Linked DNA regions of Homo sapiens: region 1 is linked to region 2. The links come from fine-mapping of genetic effects on gene expression. A gene starts in region 2. The other region holds a variant in brackets. All regions are shown on one strand. Distances are between the middles of the regions.

Region 1 (4,386 bases), 59 kb after region 2:
GCTAACACGGTGAAACCCCGTCTCTACTAAAAATACAAACAAAAAAAAAATTAGCCTGGCATGGTGGTGGGCACCTGTAGTCCCAGTTACTTGGGAGGCTGAGGCAGGAGAATGGCATGAACCCGGGAAGCGGAGCTTGCAGTGAGCCGAGATCATGCCACTGCACTCCAGCCTGGCCGACAGAGCGAGACTCTGTCTCAAAAAAATAAAAATAAAAATAAAAGAGTGAAAGCCAGGCTGGGCGTGGTGGCTCACGCCTGTAATCCTAGCACTTTGGGAGGCTGAGGCAGGTGGATCATGAGGTCAGGAGTTCAAGACCAGCTTGGCCAATATGGTGAAACCCCATCTCTACTAAAAATAAAAAAATTAGCCAGGTGTGGTGGCACATGCCTGGAATCTCAGCTACTTGAGAGGCTGAGGTAGGAGAATCGCTTGAACCTGGGAGGTGGAGGTTGTGGTGAGCCCAGATTGCACCACTGCACTCCAGCCTGGGCAACAGAGCGAGACTCCATCTCAAAAAAAATAAAATAAAAAAAAAGAGTGGAAGCCATAAAACTCTTGGAAGAAAACATGGAGGTAAATCTACAAGACCTTGGATTTGACAATGGATTATTTGGTACTAAAGTAAAAGTTCAAGCAACAAAAGAAACAATGGATACATTTAACTTCATCAAAGTTAAAAACTTTTGTGCATCATATCAAGAAAGTGAAAAGACAACCCAAAGAATAGGAGAAAACATCAACAAATCATATATTTGATAATGGCATAGTATCCATAATATATAAAGAATTTATACAACTCAACAGCAAAAAAACACATGAAAAGATGCTCAACACCATGAGTCATCAATGATGTACAAAATCAAAGCCACAGTGAGATTCCACTTAACACCCAGCAGGATGGCTGTAATTTTTGTAAAAAGGAAAATAAATGTTGGCAAGGATGCGAAATAATTAGAGCCCTCATGTATTGCTAGTGGAAATGTAAAATGGTACAGTCACTGTGGAAAACAGCTTGGCAGTTTCTGAAAAAGTTAAACATGGAATTACCATATGACCCAGCAATTCCATTCCTAGGTATACACCCAAAAGAACCGAAAACGGGTGCTCAAATAAAAACTTGTAAGAATAAGAACTGTTCATAGCAGCATTATTCATAATAGTCAAAAGGCAAGAAAAAACAAATGTCTATCAGCCAATGAATGGATGAAGAAAATGTAGTATATCCTTATACAACAGAGTATTAGTCATAAAAAGGAATGAAGTACTGATACATGTTACAACATGGATGAATCTTGAAGATATTAGGGGCTACATGAAAGAAGCCAGAAACAAAAGACCACATCTTGTATGATCCCATTTATATGAAATGTCCACAAGAGGCAAATCCACAGAGACAGAAGGTGGATTAATGGTGGCTCACATCTGTAATATCAGCATCTTGGGAGGTCAAGGCAGGAGGATCAGTTGAGCCCAGGAGTTACAGACCAGCCTGGGCAACAGAGTGAGATGCTGTTTATCAAAAAAAAAAAATTAGCCAGGCATGATGGTCCATGCCTGTGGTCCCAGCTACTCAGGAGTCTGAGGTGGGAAGATTGCTTGAGCCTGGGAGGTTGCCAAGGGCTGGGGAGAAGACAAATGGGAGTGAGTGTTAATGGGTACTGGGTTTCTGTTTAGGGTAAAGAAAATGTGCTGGAATTAGGCAGAGGTGATGATTGCTCAGCATTGTAAATATGCTGGAAGTCATTAAATTATACACTTTAAAATGGTTAAAATGGCAAATTTTATGTTATGTGAATGTTACATCCATAGTAAGATTTTTAAAATTTATTTTGTTTTTAGAGACAGAGTCTCACTCTGTCACCCAGGCTGAAGTGCACTGGCACAACCATGGCTCACTACAGTCTC[G/A]ACTTCCCAGGCTCAAGCAATCTTCCAACCTCAGCCTCCTGAGTAGCTGGGACCACAGGCATCCACCACTATGCCTGATTAATTTTTTTTTTTTTTGAGAGACAGGGTCTCACTATGTTGCCCAGGCTGGTCTCTAACTCCTGGGCTCAAGTGATCCTCCTGCTTTGGCTTCCCAAAGTGCTGGGATTACAGATGTGAGCTGCTACACCCGGCCCAATAATGATAATTTTTAAAAGCCGCTGGCTCACCCTCATTCTGATGGCTAGTTGTCTGGAAGAATGCAGAAGGGAAGGAGATGGTTTCACCCTTGGGAGACACCACCAATCCAAGGCTCTTCAGAAACAGTGGGGCCCTGGAAAGGTTAGCAGTGGGGAGGTGGAAAGAGGTTAAAACACAGAGAGAACAACCAGCGGAAAAGAATGTGTCACCTACAAAAGAATGGCAATAGAGCCGGGCGTGGTGGCTCACGCCTGTAATCCCAGCACTTTGGGAGGCCGAGGTCGGGGGATCACGAGTTCAGGAGATTGAGACCATCCTGGCTAACATGGTGAAACCCCGTCTCTACTAAAAATACAAAAAATTAGCTGGGCATGATGGTGGGTGCCCGTAGTCCCAGCTACTCAGGAGGCTGAGGCAGGTGAATGGTGTGAACCCAGGAGGCAGAGCTTGCAGTGAGCCAGGATTGTGCCACTGCACTCCAGCCTGGGCGACAGAGTGAGGCTCCGTCTCAAAAAAAAAAAAAAAAAAAAAAAAAGGCAATAGAATAGCAGCAAGGCTGTCCATAGCAGAAAAGGAAGCCAGAGAGAAAATAACTGTCTACCTAGAATCCTCTAAATAGTGACACTATTGTTCATGAGGAAGGGCAAAATAAAGACTTTTTCTCAAACTGCCATGAGAGCCCTTGGCAGAAACTGTCCTCACTCTGAGGCCCACTTGAATTGACACTTCAATAAACAGATGTTGAACCCTGAGAAGGAATCATGAGTGAGGAAATCAGAAGACGTGTGGGTAATTGCAGATGAGCTTGGACTGCAGATACCATATATGGTAGGTAGAGACTTCAGGTTGACCCCAAATGCCCATGCACCCCCTTTCTCAGTCATCGAGTCCCCGATTTCTACTGGATGTGAGGCCTGCCCAGATAAAGACTACCTTTTCCAGCCTCCCTTGCAGCTGGGAGTGGCCAATAGGGTAAGAGTAGATTTGGTGTTTGTATCTCTGGGAATGATCCATCCTTCTCTCCTCCCCTAATACTGCTGGAATGGGGCCAGAGGGCCATGCTATAGCTTGAAAGTGTCCCCTAAAAGTTCACATGCTGGAAACTTGTAACAGTATTAAGTGGTGGGGCCTCTAGGAGGTGATTAGTTTCCACCCTCTTGAATGGATTAATGCCAATATCACTGGAATGGGTTTGTTTTCACAAGAGTGGGCTCCTGATAAAAGGATAAGTTTGGCCCCCAATTTCTCTCTGTCTTGTGTACTTGACTTGCCCTTCCACCATGGTATAAATGCAGCAAGAAGGCCCTTACCAGGTGCCTGTGCCGTGCTGTTGGACTTCGCAGCCTCTGGAACCATGAGCCAAATACATTTCTGTTCCTTAAAATTATTCAGTTTGTGATATGCTGTTATACAGCAGAAAACAGACTAATGCAGGCCATTATCTTGAACATGATGCTATTGCTCCTCTGTCTTTAGAAGAGGAGAAACCCCTGCCCAACTGGTCCTGGCTCCTTCCCCATGGGCTTGCTTGCTTTTCTTTCTCTCTCTCTTTCTTTCTTTCTTTTTTTTAGGGTCCTTCTCTGTCACCCAGCTTGGAGTGCAGTGGTGTGATTATGGCTCACTGCAGCCTCACCCTCCCAGGCTCCAGCAATCTTCCTGCTTCAGCCCCCCAAATAGCTGGGACTACAGGCACATGCCACCACACCATCTCTTTAAAGCAAATCCCCATCTGTTTTTTTTTTGTTTTTTTGTTTTTTTTGGGTTTTTTTTTTTGAGACGGAGTCTCGCTCTGTCGCCCAGGCTGGAGTGCAGTGGTGCGATCTCGGCTCACTGCAAGCTCCGCCTCCTGGGTTCACGCCATTCTCCTGCATCAGCCTCATAAGTAGCTGGGACTACAGGCTCCCACCACTACGCCCGGCTAATTTTTTGTATTTTTAGTAAAAATGGGGTTTCACCGTGTTAGCCAGGATGGTCTCAATCTCCTGACCTTGTGATCCACCCGCCTCGGCCTCCCAAAGTGCTGGGATTACAGATATGAGCCACCGCACCCGGCCACAAATCCCCATCTCTTAAAAAAAAAAACAAATCCACAAAGTTCCAAAGAACAAACCTTGAATTTGTGCACTGAGTACTACATTGAATCCACACAAGTAAAGTGATGTTATAGGCATTGTACTAGCTATTTTAAGTAATCTAGAAATGATTTAAAGTATATTTAAACCAGATGGTGGGGCAAAGTGGCTCATGTCTGTAACCCCA
Region 2 (4,386 bases):
GGAAAAACAGCTTTTTGACTCTGGAAAACAAAACATAAGTAAATGTTTCGAACAGAAATATAAGTCCTATTTGGTTTTGACAACGACAGGAAAAGGAAGCTTACAGGTAACTAAATATTCAAATTATTTAGTTCAAGGCATAGAACAAATTATATTAGCTTAGAGGCAATTTTTTTTTTTTTTTTTTGAGATGGGGTCTCACTCTGTCACCCAAGCTGGAGTGCAATGGTGCAATCTCAGCTCACTGCAACCTCCGCCTCCTGGGTTCAAGAGATTCTCCTGCCTCAGCCTCCTGAGTAGCTGGGATTACAGGCGCCTGCCACCACACTGGGCTAATTTTTTATATTTTTGGTAGAGACAGGGTTTCATCATGTTGGCTAGGCTGGTCTCGAACTCCTGACCTCAAGTGATGTGACCGCCTAGGCCTCCCAAAGTGCTGGGATTACAGGCGTGAAAACCGCACCCAGCCAGATAGAGGTAAAAGTGTTAAATGGGTCTTTGAATACAGGCCTGTTCTTGTGTCTCTTGAAAGCAGTATAACTTCGGTTGCTGTCTTTTCCCAGGTCGGAAGACTGGGAGATCATGTAAGATTTAAACGTTTTCAAATTTGTTGAAACTGATTTATGGTCCAGCATGTGATCAGTTTTGCTAAACGTCCTGTGTAGGTACTTGTGAAGAAAGTGCGAGGCAGGCGGATCACAAGGTCAGGAGTTCGAGACCAGCCTGGCCAATATGGTGAAACCCTGTCTCTACTAAAAATACAAAAATTAGCTGGGCGTGGTTGCCGGCGCCTGTAGTCCCAGCTACTCAGGAGGCTGAGGCAGGAGAATCGCTTGAACCTGGGGGGCGGAGGTTGCAGTGAGCTGAGATCGTGCCACCACACTCCACCCTGGGTGACAGAGTGAGATTCCCTTTCAAAAAAAAAAAAAAAAAGAATGTGCGTTCCACAGCTGTGGGCTTAGTGCTCACACTAAGCATCTTCCTTGGATGTCTGTTATGCTTATTTTCTTTTTTTTTAGAGATGGGGTTTTGCTGTTTCGTCCCAGCTGAAGTGCAGTGGCATGATTATGGCTCACTGCAGCCTCGAACTCCTGGCTCAAGGGATCCTCCTGCCTCAGCCTCCCAAGTAGGTGGGACTCAGAGGTGAGCCACCACACCAGGTTCCATTATGCTAGTTTTCTTAATTGGCATTGGAGAAAACCATAAAATTAGGGGAAAAGGGTAGATACTAAAAGAGTGCTATTGGAGTATGATTGGAGGTGGAGTGAGAAAAGGAAATAGACCTTGCTTTCATGGGGCTGTTGAGGAGTCCAAATGAGCAGTATAGAGGCCTGGCTTGGTTGGATGAGATGGAGAAATTCAAGACCTATTTTTGAGATAGTAAGCCCGGACATTTAATTAATTAAAAATAATTGTATCAATTACTGAGAGTAAGAATACTAATAAAAGCAGTAACAGCAGTGGCAAAAGTAACCACACAAGCAGAAATACGAAAACCAAGATGATAAGACCATACAGTCCGGCAGTGTCTTACTAACAGGGTTGTGGGCGTCCCACTCCTTCTCTTCATCCTCCTCCAGCTCCTCCTCCACGTCTTCCTCCAGCTCCTGCTCCTCTTTCTTTTCCAGTACCTCCTCAGCCCCTTCTCCTCTGCCAGCCCCTCCTCCCACCTCCGCTCCCAGCCCCTCCTCCTTTCCCAGCCCCTCACCATCCAGCCCCTCCTCCTCCATCTCCTCCTCCTCTCTCAGCTCCTCCTCCTCCCCCAGCTCCTCCTCCTGCTCCTCCTTCTCCTCCACTCCTCCTTCTGCTCCTCCTTCTCGTTCAGCTCCTCCTCTCCCAGCCCCTCCTCCTCCTCCAGCCCCTCCTCCTCATCCAGCCCTTTCTCCTCTCCCAGCCCCTCCTCTCCCAGCTCCTCCTCCTCCTCCCTCCTCCTCCTCCAGCCCCTCCTCCTCCAGCCCCTCCTCCTCCAGCCCCTCCTCCTCCTCTTCCAGTTCCTATTCGGGGCGGGCCCAGCCCCTCCTCGCGGAGCGATCGATGGCTTGGGCTCGTCGCACACGCCTGCCCAGCCTCTGCGCTCGGCTCGCCAGGCCTGCGGCGCTGCCATGGAGACACGGCCCAGCGGCCGCCGGCCCCGCCCTGGGAGCCCCGCAGTGCGTCGCGCCGCTGCCCGCATCTCCGAGGCCCGCGACGAGCGGTGACTGGGGCGGGCGACGTGGGGGACCCGGGGATGCGGGCAGACGATAGGGGGCTGGAGGATGGGGCGACCCAGAGCGCGCGGGGTCTGGGGCGCGGGGATGGGGGCCGCGGGCCACGCGACGGGGACCCCAGGGTGCGCGCAGGTGGCGGGGACGCGCGATGGGGGCCCGGGAAGCTGAGGCTGACCTAGCGCAGGCATCCCAGGAGGGGAGGTCCCTGACGCTGCGCAGCTGGGAAGGCGTTCGGGAGTGGGTTGCGATGCTTCCCTGTTTGTTTTCTCCTGACATCGTTTTTGTTTGGGTCCAGGGGCCTCACGGGAGCTGGATGCTCGGAGCAGCAAGGCGGCCCTGGGGGCCCCTTCCGGTCCCGGGGCTGACGCCTGGCGGCGTCTCCGGGAACCCGCGCCCTTTCAAGCGCCGCTGGCTCCTGTTTCACAGATGGAGACCCTGAAGCCCCAACAAGCAGCCTCCCCAGCACCTCCCAGTGACTGAAAAAGCTGGCACTGGGCGCCCGTCTCACTCTCCACCCAGCTCCCAGGCTGCCCCACGGGACGTAAGTAGCTCGATCTAGGCCGCTGACCCCCAGAGACTTGATGCTGCGCTGCAGACTGCCGCCGCTGCCGGGGCGCTTGACTTCCCCTCTCCTGACAGCACGTTCGTTCCTTTGCAGCAGCACCTTTGGGGAGAGACGAGACCTGAACAAACGCTGGGGCTGGATCCCCAGGGTGGGTCAGAACAGCCGTTGCCCTGAAAGCTGGCCCGGACAGATGCGTGCGGGGCGTGCCACCGGAGCTCCTTCCAGCTTGCGTCTGGGGCCACCATGTCCCTTCCTCAGGGCACTGGATCCATCTCTTCAAGCTCAGTGGTCCAGGCCATGGTGGCAGAATCACCCCCCAGGGTGTGACGCCTCGTCCCTGTCAATTCCACACAGCTGCACCCGGAAGAGCTGTGGCCGGGCGCCGCTCTGACCTGTGTGCGGTCCCCTGAATGGGTCTCAGGTGTCTTCAGAATGGTGAGGCCGCCTCATTTCCTCACCACACAACCCTCCTGAGGACGTTGCCTGCAAATGGGCGGAATTCCTAATTTCTACCATTCAGTTAAACGAGGGATCCTTAAGCCCCAAAGCTGGGAAAGCTGTCCGTTAATTTAGTGCGCGTGGGCCGTCTCAGAACAGCAGGGTTCCCAGGAGTCCAGCGGGACGGGGGAGGGGATGAGTGGCCGTGTCCCCCTGGCAGAGAAGGCCTTGTCTGAAGGCTACGCCCGCCTCCGGTACAGGGACACCTCCTTGCTCATCTGGCAGCAGCAACAGCAGAAGTTGGAGTCGGTGCCACCTGGGACGTACCTGAGCAGGAGCCGAAGCATGTGGTACTCACAGTATGGAAATGAGGCCATCTTGGTCCGAGACAAAAACAAGCTCGAGGTCTCTAGGGACACAGGGCAGTCCAAGTTTTGCACAATTATGTAATTCCGATGTGAGCACCTGAACCCAGGACCACACTTTGAGGAAAACAGACCTGAGTTTCATTCAGTTGTCTTGTTGATTTCCAATCCTTGCTGGAAGATTTTGAATAATGAACGTGAAGATCAAACTGTGGTGTAAGAACCCAAGAAGCGCAGAATTGGCCCCCGAACCCCTCAGCACAGCCGCGGTGTGACTGGTGCACAGGACACTTCCCCTCTAGAGTCCCCTCCGTGGTCAGCTGTTGTGACATTTGAATTCTCCAGGTGCTGCTAGGGACAGCATAGGCCCGGGCACTGCTAGATGCTTGGTTTAAACCAGGCCAAGAGTAACCCTCCCATCCCCATTACAAACCACCTTTTCAAGTTTTTTAGGTTTTAGTTTTTTGTTTTTAGCATAAATGGCGGAGTAGCAGCAGCATCTCACCAGGAGCTTTGTCGCATTACATTTTGTATTTTGCTTTTTTGAGACGGGGTCTCACTCTGTTACCCAGGCTGGAATACAGTGGCACAATCACAGCTCACTGTAGGCTCTATCTCCTGGGCTCAGGTGATCCTCCCAAACTCAGCCTCCCAGGTAGCTGTGGCTCCAGGCGAACTACTGTATATAGAGACAGGGTTTCCCTATGTTGCCCAGGCTGGTCTGGTCTTATAGTCCTGGGCTCAAGCCTCCCAGAGTGCTGGGATTACAGGCATGGGTCACCGCACCAAGCCCGCATTTATATTTTGAGTT

The links. PIP is the estimated chance that this variant, and not a neighbour inherited with it, causes the effect. A credible set is the group of variants that fine-mapping cannot tell apart.
Region 1: its variant is the best candidate, but not a certain one, in a credible set for the expression of BRD3OS in tibial nerve (GTEx, PIP 0.66).

The regions. Positions count from the first base shown.
Region 1 is chr9:134,082,427-134,086,812 of GRCh38, forward strand. No RefSeq gene overlaps it. Among named protein-coding and RNA genes, the nearest start is that of BRD3, 17 kb to the left of the region's middle. The variant G/A (reference allele first, on the strand shown) is at 1,909.
Region 2 is chr9:134,023,343-134,027,728 of GRCh38, forward strand. BRD3OS (BRD3 opposite strand) reads left to right here and starts at 2,139. Exons shown (of 3, transcript NM_001355256.2): 1 at 2,139-2,194; 2 at 2,503-2,748; 3 at 2,866-4,386. The coding sequence starts at 3,406. The coding sequence ends at 3,660. RefSeq lists silencers at 1,573-1,702, 2,013-2,432.